Homo sapiens: one gene and its partner. The protein of the gene in region 2 purifies or fractionates together with the protein of the main gene of each other region. This does not show direct contact. Each region holds a gene or a part of one and is shown on either strand. Other genes may lie near its edges.

The links.
Region 1: the proteins of RWDD1 (region 2) and DNAJC1 purify together in Homo sapiens (affinity purification with mass spectrometry, with the first as the bait; one large-scale study listed by BioGRID). This does not show direct contact.

Annotation. Positions count from the first base shown.
Region 1 is NC_000010.11:21,885,231-21,888,730, reverse strand, and holds part of DNAJC1 (dnaJ homolog subfamily C member 1 precursor), read left to right. Parts: intron 1-3,500. UniProt on the Homo sapiens protein: May modulate protein synthesis.
Region 2 is NC_000006.12:116,595,504-116,598,175, reverse strand, and holds the end of RWDD1 (RWD domain-containing protein 1), read right to left. Parts: 3' UTR 501-2,672; downstream 1-500. UniProt on the Homo sapiens protein: Protects DRG2 from proteolytic degradation.

The DNA.
Region 1 (3,500 bases), on a different chromosome or scaffold from region 2:
TTCTCATAATTTAGCTCTCACTTGTAAGTGAAAACATATGGTATTTGGTTTTCTATTCTTGGTTTAGTTTGCTAAGGATAACAGCCTCCAGCTCCATCCATGTTCCTGCAAAAGACATGATCTCATTCTTTTTATGGCTGCATAGTATTCCATGGTGTATATGTACCACATTTTATGGCTGCATAGTATCCCATGATGTATATGTACCATATTTTCTTTATCAAATTGCTAATTGATGGGCATTCAGGTTGATTCCATGTCTTTGCTATTGTGAATAGTGCTGCATTGAACATCTGTGTGCATGTGTCTTTACGGTAGAATGATTTACACTCCTCTGAGTATATACTCAGTAATGGTATTGCTAGGTTAAATAGTAGTTCTGCTTTTAGCTCTTTGAGGAATCACCATACTGTCTTCCATAATGGTTGAACTAATTTTCACTCCCACCAACAGTGTATAGGTGTTCCCTTTTCTCCATAACCTTGGCATCATCTGTTATTTTTTGACCTTTTAGTAATAGTCATTCTGACTGGATAGAGATGGTATCTCATTGTGGTTTTGATTTGCATTACTCTAATAATCAGTGATATGGAGCTTTTTTTCATGTGCTTATTGGCTGCATGGATGTCTTCTTTTGAAAAGTGTCTGTTTATGTCATTTGCCCACTTTTTAATGGGGTTGTTTGTTTTTCTCTTGTATATTTATTGAAGTTCCTTATGGATCCTGGATATTAGACCTTTGTCACATGCAGAGTTTTCAAAAATTTTCTCCCATTCTGTAGGTTGTCTTTTTACTCTGTCGATAGTTTCTTTATGCTGTGCAGAAGCTCTTAAGTTTAAATCTCAGTTGTCAATTTTTGCTTTTGTTTCAATTGCTTTTGGTGTCTTTGTAATGAAATCTTGGCCCATTCCTACATCCAGGTTGCTATTGCCTGTGTTGTCCTCCAGGTTTTTTATAGTTTTGGGTTTTATGTTTAAATATTTACTCCATCTTTAGTTGATTTTTGTGTATGGTGTAAAGAAGGGGTCCAGTTTCAATCTTCTGCATATGGCTAGCCAGTTATTCCAGCACCACTTATTGAATAGGGAGTCCTTTCCTTATTGCTTGTTTTTATCAGCTTTGTCAAAAGTCAGATGGTTATAGGTGTGCAGCCTTATTTCTGGGCTCTCTGTTCTGTTCCATTGGTCTATGTGCCTGTTTTTGTACCAGTACCATGCTGTTTTGGTTATGTAGCCCTGTAGTATTGTTTGAAGTAAGGTAGTGTGATGCCTCCAGTTTTGTTTTTTTTGCTTAGGATTGTCTTGGCTATTCAGGCTCTTTTTCATTTCATATGAATTTTAAAATAGTTTTGTCTAGTTCTGTGAAGAATGTCGTTGTTAATTTGATAGGAATAGCATTGAATCTGTAAATTACTTTGAGCAATATGACCATTTAAATGATACTGATTCTTCCTATCCATGAGCATGGGATGTTTTTCCACTTGTTTGTGTCTTCTCTGATTTCTTTATTTGAGTTTTGTAATTCTCGTCATAGAACTCTTTCACCTCCCTGGTTGGCTGTATTCCTAGGTATTTTATTCTTTTTGCGGCAGTTGTGAATAGGATTGCCTTTCTGATTTGACTCTAGGTTTGGCTGTTGTTGGAGTATAGGAATGCTAGTGATTTTTGTACATTGATTTGTATCCTGAAACTTTGCTGAAGATGTTTACCAGCTAAAGGAGCTTTGGGCCGAAACTATGGGGTTTTCTAGATATAGAATCATGTCAATTGCAAACAGGGACAGTTTGGCTTCCTCTCTTTTTATTTGAATGTGCTTTATTTCTTTCTCTTGCCTAATTGCTTCAGCTAGGACTTCCAATACTGTGTTGAATAGAAGTGGTGAGAAAGGGCATCCTTGTCTTGTGCCAATTTTCAAAGGGAATACCTAGTTTATTGAGAGTTTTTTTTAACATAAAGGGGTGTTGAATTTTATTGAAAGCTTTTTCTGTATCTATTCAGGTAATCATGCAGTTTTTGTCTTTAGTTCTGTTTATGTGAAGAATCACATTTATTAATTTGCTTATGTTGTACCAACCTTGCTACCTGGGGTTGAAGAATACTTGATTGAGGTGGATTAGCTTTTTGATGTGCTGCTGGATTCAGTTTGCAAATATTTTGTAATTTTTGCATCACTGTTAATCAAGGATGTTGAACTGAAGTTTTTTTGTTGTTGTGGCTCTGCCAGGTTTTAGTATCAGGATGATGCTGGCCTCATAGAATGAGTTTGGGAGGAGTCCTTCCTCCTCAGTTTTTTGGAATTGTTTCTGTAGGAATGATACCAGCTGTTTGTACATCTGGTAGAATTCAGCTGTGAATCCATCAGGTCCTGGCCTTTTTTTAGTTGGGAGCCTAATTTATTACTGATTCAATTTTGGAGCTCATTATTGGTCTATTCAAGGAATCAATTTCTTTCTGGTTCAGTCTTAGGAGGGTGTATGTGTCCAGGAATTTATCCATCTCTTCTAGGTTTTCTAGTTTGTGTGCATAGAGGTTTCTGTAGTAGTTTCTGTTGGTTATTTTTACTTCTGTGGGGTCAGTGGTAATGATGACACCCTTCATCATTTCTAATTGTGGTTTTTGGGGTTTTCTCTCTATTAGCCTAGCTAGTAGCTTACCTATCTTGTTAAATTTTTTTTTAAAATCCATTCTTGGATTTGTTTATCTTTTGAATGGATTTTCTTGTCTCTGTCTCCTTCATTTCAGCTCTGATTTTGGTTATGTTTTGTCTCCTGCTATCTTTGCAGTTGATTTGTTCTTGCTTCTCTAATTCTTTCCGTTGTGATGTTAGGTTGTTAATTTGAGATCTTTCTGACTTTTTGATGTGGGCATTTAGCGCTATGAATTTCCCTCTTAACACTGCCTTAGCTGTGTCCCAGATATTCTGGTATGTTGTATCTTTGTTTTCATTAGTTTCAAAGAACTTCTTGATTTCTGCCTTTATTTCATGATTTATCTAAAAGTCATTCAGGAGTATGTCATTTAATTTCCGTGTAATTGCATTCTTTTGAGCAAGTTTCTTAGTCTTCTGTTTTTATTGCACTGTGGTTTGAGAGTGTGTTTAATACGGTTTTGGTTCTTTTGCATTTGCTGAGGATAGTTTAATGTTCAATTATGTGATCAATTTTAGAGTATGTGCCATGTGGCAAGGAGAAGAATGTATATTCTGTTGTTTGGGGGTAGAAAGTTCTGTAGAGATCTATCAGATCCATTTGGTTCACTGTTTAGTTTGGGTCCTGAATATCTTTGTTAATTTTCTGCCTCAGTGATCTGTCTAATACTGTCAATGGAGTGTTGAAGTCTTCAACTATTAATGTGGGTGAGTCTGTGTCTCTTTTTAGGTCTCTAAGAACTCGCTTTATGAATCTGGGTCCTCCTGTGTTGGGTGCATATATATTTAGGATAGTTAAGTCTTGTTGAATTGAACCCTTTGCCATTATGTATTGCCCTTTTTTTGTGTTTTTT
Region 2 (2,672 bases):
TAAGGTATAGTTATAATAAGAAAAATTTTAATTTATAAATGACATTGATAAAATAGCAGGTGAATAATTTTTCAATAATATATGTGCTAGGAAGGGGTTAGTTTCCATAGAATATAAGCTTGATATATAATTGAAATGACCTTTGCTCCCATCCGACTTCCTTGGACTTCCACAATATGGCTCCAACATGACTTTCTAGTCCTATTTTCTGGTAGGCACCTAACAACTATTGTTCTCCAGGAAATCTGACTGAAAGAATTATAAATATAATTTAAATATATGTATATTATATATATATAATATAATATAAACAAATAAAACTAATTTGTCGAAAGCAATTTGGAAATTGGCCTAAAGCTACTGAGAGAACGGTGGCAAATATGACTTTGATTGAAATGCCAAGTTCATCAAAACTGTAATTTCCCAATCACTAATTTTGTTGTTGTGAAGTTTATTTTAGTATTGGTATAAGAGTGTATCATGAGGTAGCTTTGCAACCCTTAGTCTTTGGCAAATATTTTATTTTTACCTGTTTTTTTAAAAAAATTTAAACTTAAAACACCTTTTATGTTTCCAATTTATTTGCAGCCAATAATCCCATGATGCATTGTTCATTATGTAAAAATTGAAAACAATCTAAATATTCAACAGTAAAGGATTTTCAGAGCTAAATACCCTTCATCTTTATGCAGGGAGATGAAGAAGTCAAGAAAACTAATGGAGACTACTCTTTAAAGGAGAACAGCTGCAAAGGCAGAGATAGGCAATAGCTATAAGAGGAAGGTCTAGGAAGTATTTTTTATGATAAGTAAATATGTAGTAGAAATAGCCAAAAGGTGGAAGAACAAAACTAAATATAACAATTATTTAAAAATTCATCATGTTAATTATGTAAGGAAATTAAAAAGCTTTGGTGGACTGAGTAGAACCTCTTCTCTCTCTCTTTCTCTCTCTTTTTTACTTCAATTACTTAAAAACATCACCACTAGTCTCTCTTTTTCTCACTTGCTATCTCTCCCCTCCCCTCACCTCCTTTGCAGCAACCCACTGCTATCTTTCTCCTCACTTGGTTCAGTATTCCTGGAATATTTAGCTGCATGACAGGATGAAGATCCACAACTAAATACCATTTAGCATTGATGGTTCAGTACCGTGGACAGCAGCACTCATGTTGGGAATGGGCCTTACTGAAATCGCAGAGTGACTTTGTAAGTTTGGTATATCACAGAATAAATTTGTTGGCGTGGCTACAAATGGATAAGGTGCTGGCCAGAATATTAAAATTCATGGCCGAATTAATTTTTTTTTCTTCCCTTCATGGAGGGGAGGAAAAAAAAAATTAACATTATCACAAAGAAAGGCTGGCGCATAGTAGCACTCAAATACCTTAATTGAATGAACTTTTCACCTTAATGATAAAGAGTGGCTCAATATGTAGGCGTATTTGATGGCTCTTTTAAAGTGATCATTCCAAATCAATAACTGCAAAAGAAATTTGTGTATTTTTTTACTGTGCTGTCCATGGTGTCAATGAATATAAGGTTGTCAAAAGTTGAACTAAAAAATGAGGACTGAGTTGAGATTCAGTCACTAACACAGGATAATGCAAATTAGTTTTAGATGTAAAATTAAAAACATCATTGGCTATTTTTATGACAAAATTTTAAAAGTCCTTTCATGGCTTTGTCCAACAATTTAAATGACCCCATCATCCATCCTCTGACACAAGTAACTTAAGTGAAAGGTTACTTGAAACTTCACCAATGGAGGCCTGAAAATTTAACAATATACTTTTCTGGCAGCATTCTTTCATCTTTGTCACCCTGATACAGTTCCTAAACAGAAAACAAACTAATGCTACTCAAATTTACATGTTTACATAAACTCACATTTCATGTGTCATCTGTTCTGAAGAGTCTTTTTCTAAAATTAGTTCCTACAGTTCTTGAAGTGTGTGACTCTCATTTTGACACACAATCATACAATGGCTCCAACTTTTGCTGCCTGACTCGTATGTCCTCTGAAAGACAAACATTAAGAGCTATGTGAAGTAGTTCACTTACTTTTCTGTTACACTTCATTACACCTAAAAGGGCTGCCACACAAATACTGAACACTTACAAATCATCTTCTTTCTGGAATACAAGAGTGCATCTCTTTGCTTCTTGGCACATGTATCTCTGGAGTATGACAGTACGATCAGTGAACTTGTCCTTTAAATTGATGAGATGTTATTATCACTCCTCTTAGTTTTACCCCAACTGGGAAATGTTCACATAACCATTTAGACGTGTTGCCTTAGATCAGCATTTATCCAACTTTTTCCCTAAGGCATCCACCTCTGCTGGCAAAAGTGCATGAAGTAAAGCAGGATCAAGGAACATTATTCCAAGTTGTAGATGGCAAATACAACATTTCTTTGAACTCTCATGCTTTACTTTAAAATACATTAGAATTAATTTTGCACTCTATTCTATAATTCATTCATTCAACAAATATTAGGGACCTACTGCATGCCAGGCATTATTACAGGGATACAGTAATGAATAAACATATCTGTGTTTGTTTTTAACCTAGTGACATTTTAATACAACTGGCACGAGTAGAAAAACAAAAACTTTACCAAATCAAAGAGCAAAACCGATAATCCAAGATGGAACAATTATTGCTTC